Homo sapiens: one gene and its partners. The protein of the gene in region 7 purifies or fractionates together with the protein of the main gene of each other region. This does not show direct contact. Each region holds a gene or a part of one and is shown on either strand. Other genes may lie near its edges.

Region 1 (3,500 bases), on a different chromosome or scaffold from region 7:
TATAAACAGAAAAAAATTAGAAAGAATCTGGGTACCTTAAATTTTTGCTGGTATAATCCTTCATGTTTATATGTTAGTTGGGTATTGATTTTCCTTGCACACCATTTAGACAACCCCCTTCCACCCACACTCCCCAAGCCAAAAACAAACAAAAACAAAAACAAAAAAACCTCTCCTAGCTGTTTATTTTTAATGTTACTGAAGCAGTAGAAAAGTCTTGATTTCAGAGGACTCCCTTTTCTTCCATTTTTTCCTGATGAGTTTGCAAATCTGATCCTGATTGGTTTGGGGATAAAGAATGAAAGCATCACTCTCATTGTGTAAACAGAAGGCAGTCAGTGGAATAGAATCAAAGGGAAGAAAGCTGTTCCTCAGGATTTTTTATATATTAAAAATATTTAGAGCTCCATGTTCTTAATTCCTAAGTCATTATTAAGATTGCTTTTTAGTTGTTAAATTAGCTGTTACATCATTTTTTAAAACTACACAAGCAACACAAGACTACGTGTTCTAATTTTTAAAGAAAATCAAACAGTATGGAAGTCTCTGGCAAGAAAGTGATGGTCCTCCCTTCCCTACCCCTCTTCCCAGCCCATTTGTGTCCACAGAGGGCACATATTAATATTTTACATCTTGTACTATACATTCTCATATTCATATCTCTATGTTTTAATGAAAAAATTTCAAACAATTAGAAAGAATTTGTGTAATGTGAATTTTTCTTGACATTACTCCTCATGTTAATATATTGGCTGGGTATTAGTTTTACTTATACCCTATTTAAACACCCCCCTCCAAAACTCAATCTCTCTATCTTCCTACTAATGTTTATTATCTATCATCTATTATCTATTTATCTATCCACCTATCTATCCAGACATTACCTATCATCTACCTGTCTATTTATCTATCTGTATCTATCTATCATCTATCATCTATTATTTATCATTTATCTACTATCACTTATCTATCTATGATTATCATCTATTATATCTATCTATCATCCATCTACCTATTATCTATCATCTACCTATTATCTATCATCTGTGTGTCATCTGTCTTCCTATCCAGCTGCAGAGAGAAAACACCTTTGGTTTTAGTTTTTTATAAATACTATAACATGTTGTTCAGTGACATTTCACTTTGTAGTCAGTCTTGAAAACCTGCCTATGCCATTCCATCTAGACAGACCTGACGCATCCTCACTCTGTAGAGTAAGCCACACTGTTAATCCCCTGCTGCTGTATGTCCCAGCAATTTCCACTTTCCCACATCAGCAGTTCCTGCCTTTAGATCACTTCTGAGTCTTAGCACCTTATGTGAAAATGCTTCTCTCTTCACAACCACATTAAAAAAAACAATGCATACTCTTATCTAGCTCTGGAGGGTTTTTTTTATGTTAACCTTTTGTATCTACTTTGAATTTTTTGCTTACAATATGAGATGAGGATTTATTCTTATTTTTTTCCCTGTGGATATTCAATTTTCTCAATGTCATTCTTTCCCCCGTGGTTTTAAATATTGCTTTTATTTAGGGTGCATTGAATTTTGTACAGTACCTGCCAAGTTTTTCTACATCATCCACTGTCTCTGGCAAGGCAATACCCTTGGTTTCAGGCAAAAGCATCACAAGGCCACCACAGATGGATGCCAGGATACCTATGGAATAGGGGAAAGGTGTTACCGCTCCAGGAAGACACAGCTGGGCCCTCTCCCATGGGGCCTGCTCACTCTGAAGCCATCATGTTGCTCACTGGAGTAGCTCTCAACCACAGCAACCTCTGCATCCCAGATCAATGCCCCAGCTCTCCCTTACCACAGCTTCAAAGGTTCTCTCCCTTCCTCAAACCCTGAGTAGCACCACGGCCCCTGTATACCTGGCAGCCATGTGTTCACTCACACATCTCACAGTGATTGACTGAGTTCCTTCTTAGGGTCCAACACCCAAGGCCTCCTCTCCTGCATCACAGGGAAACAGAAGTGCTGGAGGGGAGTCCCCTCTGCGCCCGCTCACTGACACTCTCACTTACCTGCCCCTCTCCCTCCGATTCCTCCTGTTACCTTACAGTGGAAAGCTTGTCCTGGTGTCTACTCCGGGACCAGCCTTCTCCTAGGCCTGTCTCTTTGGGCTCCTCACTGTAGGGATCAACCCTTCCTCCAGTATCTTCAACCTATTGGGAGAAGCTTTCAAACACATTCAGACCTTTCCTGTTTGACCAGCCTTCTCTCAATCTCACCTCATCCTTCCATTACCATCCTTTCTTTTTCTGCTCTTTAGAGCCAAACTTCTTGAAAAGCCACCCTCCCCTATTTTCTCCACTTCTTTGTAGCCTAGTGGTGTGCTGGTAAATGCCTAACAACCCTCTTTGGGCAATCAAGCCCTGATTGGCAGCATCTGCCAATGTGCATGGTTTAAATGCTCCCACTGTGGGCCCTTCAGGCTACTGACACAACATCCCTGCCTGGGCCACTGGGAAGTGATGCAGGAGCCCCATCAATGGGGCTTCCACCATAAAGATGCAGCAGACACAATCTCAGGAGCACAGGTAATACTGAAGGTGTAGTAGCTGAATTAGGGACTGATGAGTGTTGGGCATTTATTGCCTCTATTTCTCATATATTTCATATTCTTTACTTTTTGATGATATCTGTGCTTGATGACTGGCTTACAAAATTCTTGAAAATGTAGCTGATATGGTTTGGCTCTGTCTATCCACCCAAATCTCATCTCGAATTGTAATCCCCACATGTTGAGGGAGGGACCTGGTGGGAGGTGACTGGATTGTTGGGGAGGTTTCCCCATGCTGTTCTCGTGATAGTGAGTGAGTTCCCATGAGATCTGATGGATTTATAAGTGGTAATTTTCCTTGCTCTTCTCTTACCTGCCACCATGTAGGACGTGCCTGCTTCCCCTTCCACCATGATTGTAAGTTTCCTGAGGCTTCCCCAGTCATGTGAAACTGTGAGTCAATTAAACCTCTTTTCTTTATAAATTACCCAGTCTTGGGCAGTTATTTATAGCAGTGGCAAACGAACTAATATGGTAGCAGTTGGCCCTGGTGAGTGGGAGGTGCCAGCACCAGCATAGGACCATGCTCCAGGTCCTGCCTCTGCCTGCCCTCCTCCAGACTCAGCCTATATTCTCCCTGGCTCTGCTCCAGTCAGGTTCCTTCTGCCTCTTGCTGGCCACCAGATCCACATGTGCTACTTTCAGTCCTTAGGTTGGACCTGGTCTCGTGCCCTCCTGCCTCGGGCTTCTCACTTGGTTTCCACTTCCTTGGCCACCTCCTCTCCTTCTGCCTAGGTCTGTCACTTTGCCACCCCTCAGGTCTCTGTCCTAGGCCTCCTGCTTTCCTCTTGCTTTGTCCTGATTTTCTGGGGGGCTTGGGCCACTCCCTCAGCTTCAACCATTCTCTACTGCCAGGTGGCTTCCAGCTCTTCATCCCAAGGCCACTCTTCCCTCCTGAGCTCAGCGGTGTTGAGCCTGCTGGTTTCTATTT
Region 2 (3,500 bases), on a different chromosome or scaffold from region 7:
GTGGCTGCCTCCACTGGATGGGTAGCCATGGGCAGTGTACCCTCACACCAAGCTCCCTGAGGTCCTGCGTTGGACACGCTGTCCTGGGCCCTTCAAGGGGCTCCCCCACAGCCACAAAGAGCACTGGAAGGCTAGGCTCATGTCCGGATAACAACTGGGTGCAAAACCCACCTGTCCCCATCCTGTGCAGGCACCCTCCCACAGGGCCGTCACTGGGCTACACAGGTGGTCCCCAAGGCCCAGACAGCAGAGACAGCCAGACCACCCTGCACAGGGCCCTGCTGCACCAGGGTGGGCTCCCAGCAGTCCTGGGCCCCGCCTGTAAGGCTAAGCCCCTGACCCTCAGTTACCTGTCCTGGCATTCCTCTTTCTGGTGCCTCTCCAGGAGGGAGCGGGGAAACTGGCGCAGGCAGAAGCCACACTCTGAAGGCAGCTCGCTCACGGCTTTCTCCACGGCCAGGTTCCGGCAGCAGAGGCTCTTACTGATCTCACAACGACAATTGGGGCACGTGGCCTGCTCCTCCTTCAGCCGGGCATCTGCTAGTAGGTGGATAAAACAGCCAGCGCACATCAAGTGACCATTAGTACACTGCGAAGAAGGAAAGGGAGACGAAGCTCACAGACCTGCGGGCTCATGCTCGCACACACCCGCCCATGCCCATCAGCTCCAGCCAGGTGTCCTGAGGGACTCCAGCTGGTGCAGAGGGGCGCACGTGCCTGTCCCGAGTCGTGCTGGAGTGTGGTGAACACTGCGAGCTGCTCAGGAGAAACAGGCAGAGCCAGCTTGGGTTCTTGCAGAGATTAGAGGTCCTAAAAGCAAGGCCTCATCAGCTCACAGAGGTGACAGCTCGCCCTGGCAGTGACGGGTTCAGCCACCTGGGGCCGAGGGTCACGCTTTTCCCTTAGGGACCAGCGACTGCCCTGACCCCCCTACAGGTCCAGAGTTTGGGAGCCCTCCAGGAACACTGGGCTCTTGGCCATCACTGTCAGGTGGGGAGCGGATGCAGCTCCCACACTGGGGCAGGCATGCTCTCTGGGCCTTCAGAAAGGCCATTTATCCTGGGTTGAGAGGACTTGGCTCAGGGTGAGCCCAGGTGAGAGGAGGCAGCTGCCCCCTCGTCCAGGGAGGTTGGCTACCTGCAGAGACCTCCTCAGAGCTGGGAGGCAGGAGCCAAGCTGGCCCAGGACAAGGACAAGGGCAGGTAGGCACACAGGGAGTGCCTGGGGAGCAGAAATGGGGGCTCTGAGTGGGTGCCGAGCCTGCTGGGGTAACCGGGGCTGGCAGGAGCAGGGCACCTCCCGCTGGGCTCCCTGCCTGTGTGGGCTCCCAGCACGCCCAGTGGCCTATCCTGGCTCTCACTCCCTCAACATAAGCCTCGAGCGTCCACTTGGTGCCACTGAGAGACACATGGCAAGCTGCGGTCCCAGCCCGTGGGGGCTCACAGCATGGGAGGTGGGAAGCCCAGACCAGAACCAAGAGGTCCAAGAACAAACAAAGCCTTTTGTACCTGAGCAGACACAGTTCCCACAGCCCTGGCTGGAGTGGGGTGTGTGGGCTGAGGCATTCCAGGGCCAGCCAGGAGTGACAGGGATGTGATGTGCCTCCCACCCAAAGACTCTTAGAGCTCGCTGAGGGGAGCAGTCAGCAGAGTTGCTCCTGTCCTGATGCCTCTCCAGCAGCCGGCCCAGGCTTGCCAGCCATGCAAACCTCCAGAAAGCCACTGGGCTACAGGCTTCCTTTGGGACCTGGGACCCTCTTGAGAATGGGATGTGGTGCAGCAGAGCAGCCTGCCCAGGCCCAGCCTCTCTACAAGGTGTGTGTCAGGGAGGGGACACTCACAGGGCCCTGCCTGGTGGCGCTGGGAGGCCGGCCCTGCCTGGTGGTGCTGGGAGGCCAGCCCTGCACACGTGGGGCCCTGGGAAGTCTGAGCTGCCATCCTACTGCTTCAGCTGCCTGTGCACCCCAAGCTAAGGAGCTGTCAGACGCTGGGGCTGTTCACTCAGCACCTGTGGACTAGGCCTAAGGCCTGCTGAGTCAAAGGACCTACATGTGGAGAACCGACAGTGAGGACAAAGCCCTCTTTCATGGAATCCACATCCACATGAACACCACCCGTTACCTGCATTCAATCCTCAAGTTCTCAGTTTGGTTAAAAATTAAAATTACAGGCGGTGGCTCATGCCTGTAATCCCAGCACTTTGGAAGGCCGAGGCAGGCAGGTCACCTGAGGTTAGGAGTTCATGACCAGCCTGGCCAACATGGTGAAACCCCATCTCTACTAAAAATACAAAAATTAGCCATGCATGGTGGCGAGCGCCTGTAATCTCAGCTTCTCAGGAGGCTGAGGCAGGAGAATGGCTCGAACCCGGGAGGCGGAGGTTGCAGTGAGCCGAAATGGTGCCACTACACTCCAGCCTGGGAGACAGAGTGAGACTCTATCTCATGAATACATAAATAAATAAAAATTAAAACATACACAGTTGCCTGAGGCAGGGAGTGAGACTGGCTCTGACTGGGTTGGGGACAAGCTGAGACCTGCCCCCAGGAGAAGGTGTGAAAATCCGCCAGCCAAGTCCAGGGGTCAGTGGTGGGTGGACTACAGGCAGGAGGGGGCACAGATGCTATTGAAGCAGCTGTCCTGTGGGAGGCACAGACCAAGGGCCCACACCACTGTCCTCTCACAGCCCCCCGCCCCCCGGAGGTATGCCACTCCACGTGGCCAGCTCTAAACACCTCCTGGTGAGACTGCCGGGGGCCTTGGACGAGGTTCTGGGTCCAGCTCTGCACGTACAGTGGCCTTAGCACAGGCAAAACAGCACTCTTCTTGGCTGTGGCCCGACCCCCAAGGGAGTTCCAGGCAGGGCTGGAGCATCTAATGCCACCCACCAAGGCCACCTGGCCTCTCTTCCTGGCTCTGCATAGCCCAGGAAGATTCGAGGTGGGGTCCTAGACCCTCCTAAGGGAGCACTGAGGCTGCCAAGCACATCACCACTTACCTCCCAGCACTGCGGGCCTCTCCCCCGAAAGCCACCCCAGCTCCTGGGCCGGCCCCTGGCCACAGGCCTCATTCCTTTGGGGCCTCCAGATCCCAGCATGGGCTCAGTCAATTCCATACCATGAGGAGGCAGCAGTGACCCTGCCCTCCTCTGGCTCTCTCTGGGCCTCCAAGAGGACCTGCAAGCTCCGAGGAGACACAGGGCCATTGCCCCTTCAGCCCCAATAGCTCCATTCAAGTCAGAACACAGGGAGTCCCTAGAGTGCCCTGGACTACACTGGCCCAGTAGCCAAGGGACACAGCCACACTCACCCCCAGACCCTCCCCACTGGTCAAAGGACATCTCTAGGTGCATGGCCCGGTCCCGACCAACACTCAGCCCAGGAGGTCTGTCCACAGCAGGACGGTCCCTGGTCACATGCTCCGGAGCCTCCCCACCATCTGGGTCCCCTCAGCCCCTGCGCAAGACTCTGGCTCTACACCAAGGCCAGGCCACAGGCAGCT
Region 3 (3,500 bases), on a different chromosome or scaffold from region 7:
CAGATAGGGAAACTGAGGATCAGAGAAGCACAAGTGTCTGCTAAGGAATATGAAAGAAGTTGGGCAAAAAGCCAGCTACAACCCTTTCCCCCAGCCCCAGAAAGAGAGTTAATTTTTATCTTCGATTGCATCTAACATCCTTCCTTAAGGAACACCTAAGAGCATTTTGTTGTGGCCCCTGCCCTGTACAGCCAGGGCAGCCGTGGTTCTGAAGCTGAGCTCCCTCCCACCCCAAATTGTCTCTGGTCCTTAATTCCAGCCCCTGCAATATGGTGCAAGGTTTACCCGCAGCTGACTCATGCTCTGGCCAGCATCTCTGCTGCCCCTCACAGAAGCAGCGGCAGCAGCTCTGAGTCGTTTGAGGATCTGGGGGATTCCAGCAAAGCCACCATTTGGGATCAGGGTTAGGCTTTTAGCTTGGAGCCCATCTTTTTGGTATCTAAATGCCGTACACCCTTGCTGAAATTTTCCGGACAAATGCCTCCCTTCTCATGGGCCCTTGGTATGTCCCCTCCCCACCAAGTTGACAAAGGCAGCCAGCTTGGGGATGGCCAGAGAGTCTGGGGTCCCAGAGAAGACATAGCCCTCCCTCTCCCTTTTTGCCCATCTTTGAGGCTGTCGTGGCCACAGCTGCTGTCCCAGCAGAGACCCCCAAGCAGCCTTTTCCTCAGAGCAGCTTAATTCACCCCTGTCTTGGGGTTGGAGGCTCAGGAGGGCTGATCCAGGATTGGCATAGCAGGGAGAGCTGCAGGGACAAGCTGGGGGTGGTCGCCAGCTTTTTAGCTTAAATTTAAGATTCTGAGTGACAGGAGAGTCGGGTGCAGAGAATAAGGAGCCTGACGCGGAGGCGCCACGTGCTAATGCCTTGCCGGTGCCGTCCCGTAAAGATAAATCCTCTTTATGTGTCCTTGCACCAAGCCGGGCTTCCATGGAACACCACGGGGTAGTCCATCAACACAACGTTCAGGCTCTTCCTCCTTGATTGATTGCAGTCTCCCCTCCACGAGGGTGTGGGTCTCTCTGAGAGGGGGAAAAAATACGCACATGTGTGGCCTCAGCACGGGGGATTTCCCCTCCCCCCACCCCCTCCAGCCTGCCTTAGCTTGCTGTGTCTCTCACTGGCCCTGGCTTTCTGTTTGGCAGGTACAGCAGCTCAAATTATAGAAAATCAAAGCTGAAGAGTCCCTCAGAGATTGGCCAGGGAAAGACCCTCTTTTTATAAGTAGGGAAACTGAGGCCCAGAATGGGTAGGAGCTGAACTCTGCTGCCACATGGCAGCAGGCCGGATACAGGGCAGGACAGGGGTCCCTTCCTGGCCCCACTGGGGAGCTGGGGTCTCCATCATCAGAGAGCCCCTGACTCAGGCCCTTGTGTTCAGCTCATCCCTGGCTTGCTGAACCTGAATAATGAAGTGTGCGTGATGGAAGGTGTTAAAAGATGGTGGGAATATACCAGTGCTCATGGAAACCTGTGCTGATAGGAGAGCGCTCAATAGTTCTAATTTCCCTGGCTTTAAAAGATGAAGCCTTTTTACCAGGGACCCCTTGAGTTCAGAGCCTGAGTGCAGAAAGAGAGACCACAGGGACACGTGGTAGTGCTGGGGTTAACAGGTTTCTTGATTCCTGACGGAGGGGGGTCGTTACATCTCCATCCCCCCCACTGCCCCTCTTTGATGGAAAAGTATGAAGAGCTGGTGGTTTTTCTGAGGGTTGGGCTGTATTCATCCCCCGGCTGGCCAGGACCCCTCCCCTAACAGGAGAGGGTGGAGATGCAGTCTTGTCTGGTGGAGACAGGCCTTAGGGAATCTCAGCTAGGCACGCTGTTGCAGGGAGGGGCATGATGTCCACAGTGAACGTCACGGACATGTCGCTGGATATGGGGTGACCTGGTGCCAGGCAAAGGGAACAGCTATCCTGGCCTGAATATCAGTGGCCACGACTTTCTGATCTGTGACCTTAGGCAAGGAAACCCCTTCAGCTTCCTGAGCCTCAGCTTACTCACTTCATGGGTTTTTTTGAGGGGGCTCCCTAAACCCTCTTACTCCAGACCCCACTCGGTGGCCATAGAGCCATTTTAAAGCCCACTGGGGCCCGCATCACGCTCGTGTATGGAGAGGAAGCTAAGTTCTCGTCTTCCCCGTCACCCCGCAGATGTTCGGGCCTGCTCCTCGGCCCCCTGTGCCAACAACAGGACCTGCGTGAGCCTGGACGATGGCCTCTATGAATGCTCCTGTGCCCCCGGGTACTCGGGAAAGGACTGCCAGAAAAAGGACGGGCCCTGTGTGATCAACGGGTAAATATCCTTCCTGTGTGTGATCTAATGAATGCTGCTTTTCATGCGGCCACCAAAGACCCTTTCAGCCTAACCCTGCTGGACCTGTCGTCTGACAAAAGATGAAGTAAGCGCTCATCCTGGCAGCCCCGTAGGGGACCGCCCTGGATGGGAGTATTCACGGGGGAATGTGTCATTGCCATAATTTTTTCAAATGATCCTGAAGGCGATTTCATATTCCCCTGATGTTCTCAAGTCCCGATGCGTGTGAGTGACAGTCGATCGGAATGATGAACTGACACTCGGAGCTGCGTAATTTTCTAAAGGCAACGTAGTAAAAGATTGGAGCTCCGCGGGGCTGAGGCTGTTTGTGAAACCCACTTGCTGTATCTCAGGGGGTGGTTTTGGGGAACTGGTGGGCTCTGCAATTGGATTTTCTGGGATGTCTGTGGAGGGAGTTGCCAGGCTGAGAGGTGAAGAGATTGGGCTTCTGCCAGCACGAGAGGAGGTGGGCCAGCTGTCGGCTATCCTCAGTGGGGAAGGGGGCTTTGGGACTCCTGGGCAGCGGACATAACAGACAGAGTGGCCACTGTCTTCACTTGGACCTCCCTGAACAATGCTTCCCAGCAGCTCAGCCTCTGCCCACCCATTATCTCTTTGGCGGCCCTGAGCCATCCCTCCCCGCTGGATGGGGCTTAGCCTGAAGCCAAGGGAGATCTTGACAGAGGCAGGGTCCGAATGTAAGAATCCAAACTTGAACCCAGTCCTGGGCCTGTAGTTGGGGGGCAGGGGTGTCCCTTTCCTCTGAAGAAACAGAAGCTAACATGCAAATAAGCTTATCTTGACCGGACATCGCAGGGTGGCACAGAGACCCCAGTAGTCTGTAAGAGCTGTAAACAGACATTAACGGGGCTTCCAAAGATCAGTCTTCAGACGGGGTCAGAGTGGGGGCTGGTGAAGACTGAACTCCATTTCTGCTTATTAGCAGGAAGGAGAAAAACAGAGCGAGACCTTTAAAATATTTTGCTTTTCTCGCGAATGGACTTAAACCAGTGTGTCAAAATAGAGCCTAAGGCCCTTGAAATTCCTTCAGAGCCCAGCTCCCATGCAGCCCACACCCTGAAGCAGCAGTGCTGATTTCTTGTGTTTACTGCCCCTTCTTCCCCGGAGTTTTGCCATTTATCGGATGACAAAGGGCTCGCTCGTTTAAAAGCACTTACATTAAATGC
Region 4 (3,500 bases), on a different chromosome or scaffold from region 7:
AGGCTGGAGTGCAGTGGCGCGATCTCGACTCACTGCAAGCTCCGCCTCCCAGGTTCATGCCATTCTCCTGCCTCAGCCTCCCAAGTAGCTGGGACTACAGGCGCCTGCCACCGTGCCCGGCTAATTTTTTGTATTTTTAGTAGAGATGGGGTTTCACCGTGTTAGCCAGGATGGTCTCGATCTCCTGACCTCATGATCCACCCGCCTCAGCCTCCCAAAGTGCTGGGATTACAGGTGTGAGCCACCGCGCCCGGCCTATTTTATTTTTTCAAGATGGAGTCTTGCTCTATCACCCAGGCTGGAGTGCAGTGGTGCAATCTTGGCTCACTGCAACCTCCCCCTCCCAGGTTCAAGCAATTCTCCTGCCTCACCCTCCCTAGTAGCTGGGATTACAGGCGCCCGCCACCACACCTGGCTAATTTTTGTATTTTTAGTAGAGATGGGGTTTCACCATGTTGGCCAGGCTGGTCTCAAACTCCTAACCTCAGGTGATCTGCCTGCCTTGATCTCCCAAAGTGCTGGGATTACAGGCGTGAGCCACTGTATCCAGCCTATTTATTTATTTATTTATTTATTTATTTATTTATTTATTTTTGAGACAGAACCTCACTCTGTCACCCAGGCTGGAGTGCAGTGGCATGATCTCAGCTCACTGCAACCTCTGCCTCCCGGATTCAAGTGATTCTCCTGCCTCAGCCTCCTAAGTAGCTGGGATTACAGACGTGCACCACCAAGCCCGTCTAATTTTTGTATTTTTAGTAGAAATGGAGTTTCATCATGTTGGCCAGGCTGGTCTCAAACTCCCGACCTCAGGTGATCCGCCCGCCTCGGCCTCCCGAAGTGCTGGGATTACAGGCGTGAGCCATCGCACCCGACCCTGCTTTATTTACTTATTTATTTATTTTTATTTTTTTGAGACAGAGTCTCACTCTATTGCCCAGGCTGGAGTGCAGTAGTGCAATCTCGGCTCACTGCAACCTCTGCCTCCTGGATTCAAGCATTTCTCCTGCCTCAGCCTCCTGAGTAGCTGGGATTACAGGGGCCTGCCACTGCCACCACACCTGTCTAATTTTTGTAGTTTTAGTAGAGACGGGGTTTCATCATGTTGGCCAGACTGGTCTTGAACCCCTGACCTCAGCTGATCCTCCCGCCCCAGCATCCCAAAGTATTAGGATTAAAGGCATGAGCCTTTTTTTTTTTTTTTTAATTTAAAAAAAAGACAGCATCTCACTATGTTACCCAGGCTGGCCTTGAACTCCTGGGCTTATGCGATTCTCTTGCCTCAGCCTCCTGAGTAACTGGGATTACAGGCGCACTGCGCTTGGCTTCTGCTGCTTTTCTTTGAGGGGGATGGAGTCTCGCCCTGTCTCTCAGGCTGGAGTGCAGTGACACGATCTTGGCTCACTGCAACCTCTGCCTCCCGGGTTCAAGCTATCCTCCTGCCTCAGGCTCCCAAGCAGCTGGGACTAGAGATGGGGTTTCACCATATTAGCCAGGCTGGTCTCAAACTCCTGACCTCGTGATCCACCCGCCTTGGCCTCTCAAAGTGCTGGCATTACAGGTGTGAGCCACTGCACGCAGCCCTGCTGCTTTTTTAAAATGTCAGATTGGGCCGGGTGTGGTGGCTCACACCTGTAATCCCAGCACTTTGGGAGGCCTAGGTGGGTGAATCACAAGATCAGGAGTTTGAGACCAGCCTGGCCAACATGGTGAAACCCAGTCTCTACTAAAAATACAAAAAAATTAGCTGTGTGTAGTGGCAGTTGCCTGTAATCCCAGCTACTCAGGAGGCTGAGGCAGGAGAATCACTTGAACCTGGGAGGCAGAGGTTGCAATGAGTTGAGATTGCACCACTGCACTTCAGCCTGGGCAAGAGTGAGACTCGGTCTCAAAAAAAATAAATAAAAATTAAAAATAAATAAAATGTCAGATTGGCCAGTTTAGTGCTCTGAGGTCTGGTTGCCAATGAGAATGTGTGGTGTGAGCCTTGGGCCCTGGATCCCCTCTCATCGACTCATTATGCACCTCACACCAGGCCACTTTGGAGTTGTCTACCACGGAGAATACATAGACCAGGCCCAGAATCGAATCCAATGTGCCATCAAGTCACTAAGTCGTAAGTGGGGCAGAAGATGGGAAGGCAGAGGGAGGGGCCTCAGGCTGGGAGGATTCTTTTTCTCTGTGTTCCCACCTTACTGAGTGACCCTGAGCAGGAGACCTTCATTTCCCATTTCCCCATCTGAGCCTTATAAAGGGACGCCCTGCCCTGTGCCTGACTTGCGCTGCTCTGCAGGCATCACAGAGATGCAGCAGGTGGAGGCCTTCCTGCGAGAGGGGCTGCTCATGCGTGGCCTGAACCACCCGAATGTGCTGGCTCTCATTGGTATCATGTTGCCACCTGAGGGCCTGCCCCATGTGCTGCTGCCCTATATGTGCCACGGTGACCTGCTCCAGTTCATCCGCTCACCTCAGCGGGTCAGTGTTCATCTGGCTCTGGGTTGGGGGCTGGGCAGCAGCTGGAGAAGGAGCTGCTGTGCCCTTGCCCACCAACCCACCTGTGCCCCCAGAACCCCACCGTGAAGGACCTCATCAGCTTTGGCCTGCAGGTAGCCCGCGGCATGGAGTACCTGGCAGAGCAGAAGTTTGTGCACAGGGACCTGGCTGCGCGGAACTGCATGTGAGAGTCCAGAGTAGCTGGGGTGAAGCAAAAGGACAGGGCATGAGGGTGTGCGGTGCTCAAGGCCGCCTCAGGGAAGGGCCCACTCCAGCCTTGTCCTCCCCTCTCTGCACCTTACTTTTTTTGTCTGCCCAGTGCAGACTTGGACTGGACACTGTGGCTTTGAAATTTGGCCAGGCGCGGTGGCTCACGTCTGTAATCCCAGCACTTTGGGAGGCTGAGGAAGGCGGATCATGAGGTCAGGAGATCGAGACCATCCTGGCTAACACGGTGAAACCCCGTCTCTACTAAAAATACAAAAAGATTAGCCAGGCGTGGTGGCGGGCCCCTGTAGTCCCAGCTACTCAGGAGGCTGAGGCGGGAGAATGGCGTGACCCCAGGAGGCAGAGCTTGCAGTGAGCGGAGATCGCGCCACTGCACTCCAGCCTGGGTGACAGAGCGAGACTCCGTCTCAAAAAAAAAAAAAATTCTGTAAGGGCCTAGAACAGGTGGGTTCAGGGCCTGGTAAGGGCCAGTCCTAAGTGTGATCCTCTCCCTACCCCTAAGGCTGGACGAGTCATTCACAGTCAAGGTGGCTGACTTTGGTTTGGCCCGCGACATCCTGGACAGGGAGTACTATAGTGTTCAACAGCATCGCCACGCTCGCCTACCTGTGAAGTGGATGGCGCTGGAGAGCCTGCAGACCTATAGATTTACCACCAAGTCTGATGTGGTGAGGCCCCACCTGCCCTACAGTCCACATGGCTTTGGCACCCAAGAACACTGGGCCTCACCCATTCAGCTCTGAATGATCTGAGCCCAGGGAGTCCCCAGGGTAGATGAC
Region 5 (3,500 bases), on a different chromosome or scaffold from region 7:
TGGGTGGCCCTTCCCACTATTGCCACATCTGCTGTCCACCCAACATGCCCACACTCACTGCCATATCGTAAGGGAAAGGAGAGGAGGAAAGGAGGAAGGAAAGAGAGGCCTGTCCACACCATGGGCTATCAATAGCTCCTGGAGCCGAGAACCAAGGTCCCTGATGAGCGGGCTCTGACATAAGAGTGCCTCTGTTGAGGAGGGTGGACCAGCAAAACCTGGGCCCACCCACTCCTGCGTCCAGCCGGCTACCACACTGGAGGCCTGTGAGTCACTCCCCCGGCAAGCCCTGGTACGGGTGACGACGAGGGAGCTCAGCTGGCACTGGGGGGACTTGGCAGGAGGCCTCCTGCACAGCATCTAGTTCAGCAGTGCCAGCGAGGGGAGGCCCTGGCATGTCATTTACTGAGCAGCAGGTCTCCAGGGACATTGCAGCTGCCCTCCCTGGTGCATGTGTGTCCGGAACTGTGTAACCATCACCCAAGTCAACAGTTAGAATACGACACCCCCAGCCACATGGCACCTCCCTGAGCATAATTTCCTCCTCCACCTAAACATCACCACTCACCTGATAACAATGCTTTTCCTTTATCATTTATAGGCACATGTAAGCGTCTAGCTCTGTGTGCATCCCTAAACAGCATAGCGTTTTTAACTACATGGAATCATATTGTGTGTGTGCCTGTGGCTCTGGCTTCTTGGTTTAGCATTGTGAGATGCACTCATGGTGTTGCGTGTAGCTAGAGTTACTCGTTTTCACTGCTGTATAGTGTTCTGTTGCCTATAAAATACCCCTTCAGCCAATGGGCGGCAGGTAGGTCACTGTTTATTCCTCGCTTGCTGGTATTTTTAGTACCTGCATGAATCAAACACACCCCGTAATGGCATCTACAACTACCAGGCGTATATGAGGGGCAGAGACCAAGGGTGGTCACAAAGTCCTTTGCAAGTCTCACCCTTAAGCGCGTGGGGACTGTGTTGTTGCTGGCAGCCAGAATTAATGCTGATGTCCTGTATGTCTTGCAGCTTGCCGGGATTGCTGTCCTTGCCATTGGACTATGGCTCCGATTCGACTCTCAGACCAAGAGCATCTTCGAGCAAGAAACTAATAATAATAATTCCAGCTTCTACACAGGTGAGGGACGGGGAAGGCTCAGTGAATTCAGACCCTGGCTCCAACAAAGTTCCTGCAACTTTGGAGGCCCCATGTTGACCCAGGGACTTGGGCTTGGGAAAGACTTTTGCTCTAGCCACGCTGGCCAGTCGTGTCCCTTTCAAGTTGTGCAGTTTTTGTGTGTGTCGTTGTGCCTGGGAATTTGCGTTTAACTGATGTGGTTTCTTTTCCTGATGGCCAAGTCAGGCATGTTGATGGTTCTCTGATGTGATGTAGCCTCTGCCAAAGTTGTACTCATTCTTGAGGGTTTACGAACCTCTGTTCTCATCTCTGATGCTCTCTCCTGATTGTCTTCTTATCCTGCATCATTTCCTTAATTCAAAAAGCTTTGTCCTGGGGATCTGCAGTGCTGGAAGAAGATATAGACAGCTTTCCTCTTCACTGTTCAGATAGGGACTCTGAGACTGGGAAAAACATCAGCCTCCTGGAAAACACAGCAACAATAGGAGAGACTAGAATGGACTCTGCCCAGTCCTTTGGACCCCTGGTACTGGGGTAAATGCTGTAGTGTTTAGTTTTATTTGTTTGTATTTGACACGACTTTTGCTTTGGGAGAGAGGCTTCCAGTTTAAACCTGCCTGGGATCCTCTGAACATGAACAGACTTGGCAGGTTTCTTTCTACACTCAGGCTTCTTGGCAGCCTTGCTAGACCATTCTATCCCTCTCGTTGCCGTATCACCACGTCAAAGCTCCCTTCAGAGGAGGGGGAGCCTGGTGCCTGCCAAGTGCAGTTGCCCGCGTCTGCGTGAATTCAGACTCTGCGGCTGTACTCTGCCTGGCTTGGAGGTAGGAAACTTTTCATTTGTGAGGAACAAAGGAAACCTCCTATTTTTAGGATGACGCTGACATGTTGTCAGGCTCAAAATGTAAGTTTGGTCACTTCCTTCCCACCCACCAAAAAAGTTATTTTTACAAACGAGGGAGAAAACAGTTATCTCCCAGTCCCTCAGGGAGAAGCAAGGCTGGCCAGCCACGTAGACCTTCCCTTTCCCACCTCTTGAACTGGGTAGGGAGAGTCTTTAAAAACAGCTCCTTTGGTTGCGTAACATTTGAGCCCTGTGGATAGTTTTGCTGGGTTTACTGCTTTTTATTGTTAGCTGGGGTTTTTTGGGGTGTGTCTCTCTATTATCGGAAAGAAAGTGAGAGAAAGCACAATGTATGTTTAGAAAAAAAACTACACATACACACAGAGTTTTTGGGGAACAGGTTTCTATAGCGCCCTGACTTGTTTTGGCAACAGACCATTTTTTGGGAGTCTGTGACAGGCTTAGAATGCTGTCCTGCAGAGCAGGAGGGAGGAGCCGGGTGCGGGTGCTGGGGAAGACTCTCCACACTCCACGCCGTGTTCCAGAAGGGAGCCCTGTGCTGGGGGAGCAGGTCTGCCGGCAGGAGCAGGCACAGTCAGGCCTGCTTTCCTAAGCAAAAGCCCTGTGGCCGGCGCGTGTGTCTCCAAAGAGAGACTCAGTCCTCCCTTGTCCTGGCTGCTTCTAACAACCCACTTTTTCTTTTCTGTTACCCAAAGCCTCTATGGCTGATTCTTTATATTTTTAGATGTGGGAGTTAAGAATCTCATGGGTAAGAGGATGGAACTGGGAGGAAGACACTAACATTTTTATTTTTTATTTTTTTTATTTTTTTTTTGAGACGAAGTTTCAATCTTGTTGCCCAGGCTGGAGTGCAATGACACAATCTCGGCTCACCGCAACCTCTGCCTCCCAGGTTCAAGCGATTCTCCTGCCTCAGCCTCCTGAGTAGCTGGGATTACAGGCATGTGCCACCATGCCCAGCTGATTTTGTATTTTTAGTACAGACGGGGTTTCTCCATGTTGGTCAGGCTCGTCTCCAACTCCCGACCTCAGGTGATCCTCCCGTCTTGGCTTCCCGAAGTGATGGGATGACAGGCGTGAGCCACCTCGCCCGGCTGGAAGACACTAACATTTTTGAGCCCCCTTCTTTGTGTGTCATTCATTGTCTTGTGTGTATTATATAATTTAATCCCCTTAGCTCTACGAGGAGTGTGGAGTGATTCTCATCTCACAAGTGCAGAAACCGAGGCCTAGAGAGCTGAAATAACTTGTCTAAGCTTATATTCCCTCAAGAGGCAGGGCCAGGTTTTGAACCCAGGCCTAAAAGAGCTGCTTCTCGGGTTGTCATTGCCAGGTTGTGGGGTCTCCCTCTGTAGGAATGGAAGAGGTCTGTACTGGCTGAATGTGCCCCATTGGCAGGGATGGGGTGGCGCTGTCTTGGCCCTTTTACTTCACCCAAATTGCAGTCAGGGAGAGAAACCCCTGCGTCGGTGGCCCAGCCAGCAGCTGACAGGTGGGA
Region 6 (3,500 bases), on a different chromosome or scaffold from region 7:
GAGTTCAAGACCAGCCTGGGCAATACGGCAAGACCCTGTCTCTATCTTGCTTTAAAAACATTTTTAAAAAAAAGAGTGAAGAAAACTAATATAGAAGAGTAGACAATCTATACTTTGCCAGACATCAAAAACCCAACTACTACTGGGTGGAACAGAGAGAGTAAGACAGCGGAAAAGAGGCAGGAAGTGTTAGGGAACATCCTTCTTCAATAATTCAATATCCAGCCAGGTGCAGTGGCTCACGCCTGTAATCCTAACACTTTGAGGGGCCAACACAGGCAGATCACTTGAGGCCAGGAGTTCGAGACCAACCTGGCCAACACAGCGAAACGCCATCACTACTAAAAAAATAAAATGATTCAATATCCATTTACTAACTATCCTTAATTGTCATCAGGACAACTAACAGTAATATGGGGAATCCAGTTTAATAGGGTTTAACTGTATTCAACATGAGGAAAAATACAACAACAAACCAGCTAAAAACAGAACAAGGGATAAAGTCCTTAACAGTGGCTGCTTTTTTGTGTCTTTGGTGCAGATGCCAGTAAATAATCTTGAGAAAAAATGTGAAATGTTTATTGCATATGTAATCAAAAGCAATGTTATCTTTTGGAAAAGTATGGTATCATCTGAATGTCCATTTATCAGATTTATTCCTTAGTTTAATCAGAGAAACTTCAAAGTAGAATCATTAGGCCCAAAGAAAGCAAGTCTGAAATTAATCCTTTCAAAGTGGTAGGTATAGGTTTTCAGCAGTGTAAGAAAATTACCAAATCTGACACTTCTGATTTCTACCCTCCATCCTCATCTTCTGAAAACAGATATGGACAGCTATTTTATACGTGAGTTTTAAATAAAGTACAATATTGAATTATATAGAATTATGAAATATGATAATTTTCATTAACTTTTTATAAACCGGTAAGCAAAAAATAAAACTCTAAGACCCCCAACTGACTCATGGACCCTCCCCTTGCCAAAGGCATTCCAAAGTTAACCTAAAAAACTAGTTCAGGCCATAATGAGAAGTGGGGGTTGGACATGACTCATATACCCTCTTCCCTTTGGAATTCAGGGACAACTGATCAGCATTAACATTAAAACAGAGATATTAAGATGTTTTGTAGCAATAAGACGCCAAATTCCCAGCCTGACTCTAGTACAGCATCACGTCAGATAGCAGGCCATGAAAGAAATTGAAGTATTTTGAGGCCGGGCACAGTGGCTCACGCCTGTAATCCCAGCACTTTGGGAGGCCGAGGCGGGTGAATCACGAGGTCAAGAGATCGAGACCATCCTGGCCAACATGGTGAAATCCCGTCTCTACTAAAAATACAAAAAAAATAGCTGGGCATGGTGGCCAGCGCCTGTAGTCCCAGCTACTCAGGAGGCTGAGGCAGGAGAACGGCGTGAACACAGGAGGCGGAGCTTGCAGTGAGCCGAGATCATGCCACTGCACTCCAGCCTGGGCAACAGAGCGAGACTCTGTCTCAAAAAATAAATAAATAAATAAAACAAATTGAAGTATTTTACCCTAAATTATATTTCTTTGACATATTCTGAAATGGCCCTGCAAAGCTTTCTCTTGTGGGGAAAATTTACGTTCTGTAGAGAATCCTTTCCCTTTCCAAGTCTTTTACCTGAACCAGGAGAAAATTAACTTAAGAGTCTGCCACCTTTTAAAGTCTCATAAGAAACATTTACAATGTATTCTCTCTGAAGCCTGCTACCTGGAGGCTTCATCTGTACAATAAAAACCTTGGTAGCTACAACCTATTATTTTAAACCAGACACTCCCTTCTATGGATTCCAGGACTTTAGATAAGCTCTTTTGACCAATTGCCAATCAGAAAATCTTTGAATCTGCCTACGACCTGGAAGCCTCCCCAACTTCTAGTTTTCCTGCCTTTCCAGATGGAACCAATGTACATCTTACATGTTTAACTGACGTCTTATGTCTCCCTAAAGTGTATAAAATCAAGCTATAGCCTGACCACCTTGGACAGATGTTCTTAGTATCTACTGGGGCTGTGTCATGGGCCACTGGTCACTCATATTTGGCTCAGAATAAATCTCTTCAAATATTTTACAGAGTTTGACTCTTTTCATTGACGAAGTTATTTTAAATACACACATGCACATATACACAGCTTAAAACTATGAACAGAAAAATATTTTACTTAGACAATTTCTGTCTTCAATGCCTGACCCTTTAGCCCTTTAAAACTATGAATAGAAAAAATTTTATTTAGACAATTTCTGTCTTCGATGCCTGATCCTTTAGCCCTAGAATATCCTGAGAAACTTGATCTCTCATTCATATAACATACTAGGCCTTTTCTGTTTAGTCCTATGTACTTGAGAAATCAAACGTCACCTAGAGAACCTCCACCATTGTGTTACCCAGGAGATTTCCGGCTTGTCTACCCACAGGAGCCATGCAGAACATGATATGTTCTAGTAAATCCAAAGAACCATTATTACAACCTTCTCTTTTCCTCCAAATATTCCAAGGAGCTCATTACCAGCATTACAACATAAAAACCTGCAGTATAAAGTAAAAAGTACAATATTTTGAGTCCATTCACTTAAATTCTATTTTTGTTTCTGCTATGAGTCTACTCTTTGAACTTCAGCTTCTCCTTATATAAAATGGCTATCACAGGTTTTCAGTCTTCCAAGAAAGTTCAACAATTAAAATATTTACCAACTTAGTCAACAGGGCAAGATCACCATCTCTACAAAAAATTAAAAAATCAGCCAAGCATGGTGGTATATGTCTGTAGACCCAGCTACTAGGGAGGCTGAGGTGGGTGGATCGATTGAGCCTGCGAGGCTGAAGCTTCAATGAGCTAAGATGGTGTCATTGCACTCCAGCCTGAACAACAGACCAAGGCCCTGTCTCAAAATGTGTATGTACATATATACGTATGTACACATATTTGTTAATCACATAACTAATGTTTTAACACATCTCACTGGAGAGGAAATAAATATTTCTCAAATATCTAAAATGCAGAGCTGTACAAATTAACTGGCCTCCAATTAATATTTGCTTTAATAAATAGACTTCACATATCCTCTCATTAAGTCAACAGAATTTGCTGTGCTATTCCTCTTTTGAAATAGTTTGGTTTCAGATAAATTAAGGCCTTTATGAAAATTCAGTGTCAAATTTGAGTATGGGTTGGGTGCAGTGGGTCATACCTGTAATCCCAGCACTTTGGGAGGCTGAGGCAGGCGGATCACTTCAGGTCAGGAGTTCGAGATCAGCCTGACCAACATGGTGAAACCCTGTCTCTCCTAAAAATACAAAAATATTAGCCAGGCATAGTGGTGCACGCCTGTAGTACCAGCTACTCGGGAGACTGAGGCAGGAGAATCGCTTGAACCCGGGAGGTGGAGGTTACAGTGAACCGAGATTGCGCCACTGCACTCCAGCGTGGGTGACAGAGCAAGACTCCATTACAAAAAAAAAAAAAAATTTTTTTTTTTTT
Region 7 (3,500 bases):
CGGGGGTCCTCTGGGTCGGGGCTCCCCTGACCCTTCTCTCTTCCCACAGGGTGCGGGGGGCAATGGCACTGCAGCTCTGGGCCCTGACCCTGCTGGGCCTGCTGGGCGCAGGTGCCAGCCTGAGGCCCCGCAAGCTGGACTTCTTCCGCAGCGAGAAAGAGCTGAACCACCTGGCTGTGGATGAGGCCTCAGGCGTGGTGTACCTGGGGGCGGTGAATGCCCTCTACCAGCTGGATGCGAAGCTGCAGCTGGAGCAGCAGGTGGCCACGGGCCCGGCCCTGGACAACAAGAAGTGCACGCCGCCCATCGAGGCCAGCCAGTGCCATGAGGCTGAGATGACTGACAATGTCAACCAGCTGCTGCTGCTCGACCCTCCCAGGAAGCGCCTGGTGGAGTGCGGCAGCCTCTTCAAGGGCATCTGCGCTCTGCGCGCCCTGAGCAACATCTCCCTCCGCCTGTTCTACGAGGACGGCAGCGGGGAGAAGTCTTTCGTGGCCAGCAATGATGAGGGCGTGGCCACAGTGGGGCTGGTGAGCTCCACGGGTCCTGGTGGTGACCGCGTGCTGTTTGTGGGCAAAGGCAATGGGCCACACGACAACGGCATCATCGTGAGCACTCGGCTGTTGGACCGGACTGACAGCAGGGAGGCCTTTGAAGCCTACACGGACCACGCCACCTACAAGGCCGGCTACCTGTCCACCAACACACAGCAGTTCGTGGCGGCCTTCGAGGACGGCCCCTACGTCTTCTTTGTCTTCAACCAGCAGGACAAGCACCCGGCCCGGAACCGCACGCTGCTGGCACGCATGTGCAGAGAAGACCCCAACTACTACTCCTACCTGGAGATGGACCTGCAGTGCCGGGACCCCGACATCCACGCCGCTGCCTTTGGCACCTGCCTGGCCGCCTCCGTGGCTGCGCCTGGCTCTGGCAGGGTGCTATATGCTGTCTTCAGCAGAGACAGCCGGAGCAGTGGGGGGCCCGGTGCGGGCCTCTGCCTGTTCCCGCTGGACAAGGTGCACGCCAAGATGGAGGCCAACCGCAACGCCTGTTACACAGGCACCCGGGAGGCCCGTGACATCTTCTACAAGCCCTTCCACGGCGATATCCAGTGCGGCGGCCACGCGCCGGTATGGGCCTCAGTGTGTTCTCGCAGGGCCCGGACTGCAGGCGTCCGTTCGTGGGTTTGCGTGTCCCAGCCTGCTGGGGAGGGTGCACGTGAGCAGTGTGGCCGTGGCTCTCGCCAGCCTGGGCGCTTGCGTGGGTGGGTGCCGCATCTCTCAATGCCATTCACGCTGGCGCCAGTCCCAGGCCTGTGTCGGGCACTGGGGAACACAACAGTGAGCACGGTGGGGCTCCCTGCCATGTGGGTTCTGTTCTCGGGGACGTGTGTAGGACGTGTGCCGGAGGGAAGGGAAGGGCCTGTCCCGAGTCTTGGAGCGCGAGTGGAGAGGGCCCTTCAGGACAGGGGGTCTGCCTGCCATTGACACGCTGTGGTCCGCAGGGCTCCAGCAAGAGCTTCCCATGTGGCTCGGAGCACCTGCCCTACCCGCTGGGCAGCCGCGACGGGCTCAGAGGCACAGCCGTGCTGCAGCGTGGAGGCCTGAACCTCACGGCCGTGACGGTCGCCGCCGAGAACAACCACACTGTTGCTTTTCTGGGCACCTCTGATGGCCGGATCCTCAAGGTTTGGCCCAGGCTGGGGCGGGGAGGCTCTGGAGGGCCCGTCTGTGCACAAGGCCCGTACCCTCACCGGCCTGCCCTCGCGCACACAGGTGTACCTCACCCCAGATGGCACCTCCTCAGAGTACGACTCTATCCTTGTGGAGATAAACAAGAGAGTCAAGCGCGACCTGGTACTGTCTGGAGACCTGGGCAGCCTGTACGCCATGACCCAGGACAAGGTGAGCCAGACGCAGCCCCGGAGAGCACTCTAGGCCAAGTGTGCCCGGTCATTGCATCCCAGGCCCTTAGGACAGGCCTGGGGGCCAGAGGAGGATGGGGTGCTGCAGAGCTGGGCCCTTCTCCTTGGTCTGGATGAGGGGTGGCTGGGTGGGTCCCGGGCAGTGCCTCCATCCTGTGTCTCTCTAGCACTGCCCCGTCTCTGCCGCTCCTTCTGTTTGTCCTTTGTGGTCTCAACCATGTCTCTCCCTCTGGCCCCGCCTCTGCCCTGTCCTGATGGAAGGGACCTGGGTTGGTGTCTGAGGCGTGTTGCTGAGGGTGGATGGGAAGACGGGGTCCCTGCACAGCCCATGTGAGCTCAGTCAGTGGAGAACATGGGCCTGGGCCCCAAGCTTGTGGGGGGTTAGTGCCAGAGACCCTCAGGCCAGCCCTAGGAGCACCCCTCGGAGGGAGCCAGTGTAGAGGACAGGAGCTGCCCCGGGAGACACCATAGCCAAGACCTCCAGGCTTCCCTGGGCTCCCATCGGGATCCTGGGCCAGGCATGGCCACCCAGAGCCAGAACTGTTTAATATCAAGCCTGAGGTGTCTGAGGCTCCCGAGGCCCCGGGACAGAGCTGGGTCAAGCTGGCGGTCTGGGGACATCTGGGGTCTGCGGAAGGCCCGTGCGGCCTCTGCTGTGGTCCCACTCACGGCCCCGCTGCCCTAGGTGTTCCGGCTGCCGGTGCAGGAGTGCCTGAGCTACCCGACCTGCACCCAGTGCCGCGACTCCCAGGACCCCTACTGCGGCTGGTGCGTCGTCGAGGGACGGTGAGTGCCTGGGGTGGCTCGGGGACACGGCCTGCCTCTGGGATCCCGGAAGGTCGTGGCCTGGGTCGGGGGGCACATCGCACTGTCCTGTCCCGGGAGAACAAGACTCCACCCTGGGCTGAGGCCGCCCCCTGCGCCTGCAGATGCACCCGGAAGGCCGAGTGTCCGCGGGCCGAGGAGGCCAGCCACTGGCTGTGGAGCCGAAGCAAGTCCTGCGTGGCCGTCACCAGCGCCCAGCCACAGAACATGAGCCGGCGGGCCCAGGGGGAGGTGCGTGGTGGGTCTGGGGTGGGGGTCCTGGGCCCCAGGCCGGGCCAGGTGGGGGCTCCCCCATGCTGGGAGCTGTTGGGACAGGCAGGGGAGGGCTCCACATCTCCCCCGCCTGGGCTCTGGGCACCGAGCCTTAGGGATGGAGCCCGCCCTCCATTGGTCCCCTGGACCCCTATGACCTGGGCGGGCAGGGGTGGGGCTTGTCCATATCCAGGGTGGACTCAGGCCCTGTCCCAGGAGTTGCTGGGGTGACCACAGAGAGGCCTGTATTGGAAGACGTGGAGTCGGGTTCTGGAGGCTCCACTGGGACGTGCGCCCACACACGCAGGGAGGTCGGGTCACCGGCAGGTGGGCTGACAGGACTCGGGGTTCCCAGTGTGAGCGGCACGGCCCCTCCCTCAGGTGCAGCTGACCGTCAGCCCCCTCCCTGCCCTGAGCGAGGAGGACGAGTTGCTGTGCCTTTTTGGGGAGTCGCCGCCACACCCCGCCCGCGTGGAGGGCGAGGCCGTCATCTGCAACT

Evidence for each region.
Region 1: the proteins of PLXNB2 (region 7) and SLC22A3 purify together in Homo sapiens (affinity purification with mass spectrometry; one large-scale study listed by BioGRID and IntAct). This does not show direct contact.
Region 2: the proteins of PLXNB2 (region 7) and ZFTRAF1 purify together in Homo sapiens (affinity purification with mass spectrometry; one large-scale study listed by BioGRID and IntAct). This does not show direct contact.
Region 3: the proteins of PLXNB2 (region 7) and DLK1 purify together in Homo sapiens (co-immunoprecipitation; one large-scale study listed by IntAct). This does not show direct contact.
Region 4: the proteins of PLXNB2 (region 7) and MST1R purify together in Homo sapiens (co-immunoprecipitation; one study listed by IntAct). This does not show direct contact.
Region 5: the proteins of PLXNB2 (region 7) and CD9 purify together in Homo sapiens (co-immunoprecipitation; one large-scale study listed by IntAct). This does not show direct contact.
Region 6: the proteins of PLXNB2 (region 7) and SPAST purify together in Homo sapiens (co-immunoprecipitation; one large-scale study listed by IntAct). This does not show direct contact.

Annotation. Positions count from the first base shown.
Region 1 is NC_000006.12:160,445,878-160,449,377, reverse strand, and holds part of SLC22A3 (solute carrier family 22 member 3), read right to left. Parts: intron 1,660-3,500; coding exon 1,560-1,659; intron 1-1,559.
Region 2 is NC_000008.11:144,452,872-144,456,371, forward strand, and holds part of ZFTRAF1 (zinc finger TRAF-type-containing protein 1), read right to left. Parts: intron 590-3,500; coding exon 351-589; intron 1-350. Other genes in the region: TMEM276-ZFTRAF1 (uncharacterized protein LOC157542 isoform 1 precursor), read right to left, coding at 351-589.
Region 3 is NC_000014.9:100,729,892-100,733,391, forward strand, and holds part of DLK1 (protein delta homolog 1 isoform 1 preproprotein), read left to right. Parts: intron 1-2,150; coding exon 2,151-2,292; intron 2,293-3,500. UniProt on the Homo sapiens protein: May have a role in neuroendocrine differentiation.
Region 4 is NC_000003.12:49,890,374-49,893,873, reverse strand, and holds part of MST1R (macrophage-stimulating protein receptor isoform 1 preproprotein), read left to right. Parts: intron 1-2,035; coding exon 2,036-2,116; intron 2,117-2,293; coding exon 2,294-2,475; intron 2,476-2,567; coding exon 2,568-2,677; intron 2,678-3,223; coding exon 3,224-3,389; intron 3,390-3,500. UniProt on the Homo sapiens protein: Receptor tyrosine kinase that transduces signals from the extracellular matrix into the cytoplasm by binding to MST1 ligand. Regulates many physiological processes including cell survival, migration and differentiation.
Region 5 is NC_000012.12:6,224,400-6,227,899, forward strand, and holds part of CD9 (CD9 antigen), read left to right. Parts: intron 1-1,026; coding exon 1,027-1,135; intron 1,136-1,739; exon of another isoform or gene 1,740-1,961; intron 1,962-3,500. UniProt on the Homo sapiens protein: Integral membrane protein associated with integrins, which regulates different processes, such as sperm-egg fusion, platelet activation and aggregation, and cell adhesion.
Region 6 is NC_000002.12:32,070,056-32,073,555, reverse strand, and holds part of SPAST (spastin), read right to left. Parts: intron 1-3,500. UniProt on the Homo sapiens protein: ATP-dependent microtubule severing protein that specifically recognizes and cuts microtubules that are polyglutamylated.
Region 7 is NC_000022.11:50,287,147-50,290,646, reverse strand, and holds part of PLXNB2 (plexin-B2 isoform 3 precursor), read left to right. Parts: intron 1-49; coding exon of another isoform or gene 50-62; coding exon 63-1,130; intron 1,131-1,504; coding exon 1,505-1,687; intron 1,688-1,775; coding exon 1,776-1,904; intron 1,905-2,609; coding exon 2,610-2,710; intron 2,711-2,853; coding exon 2,854-2,980; intron 2,981-3,382; coding exon 3,383-3,500.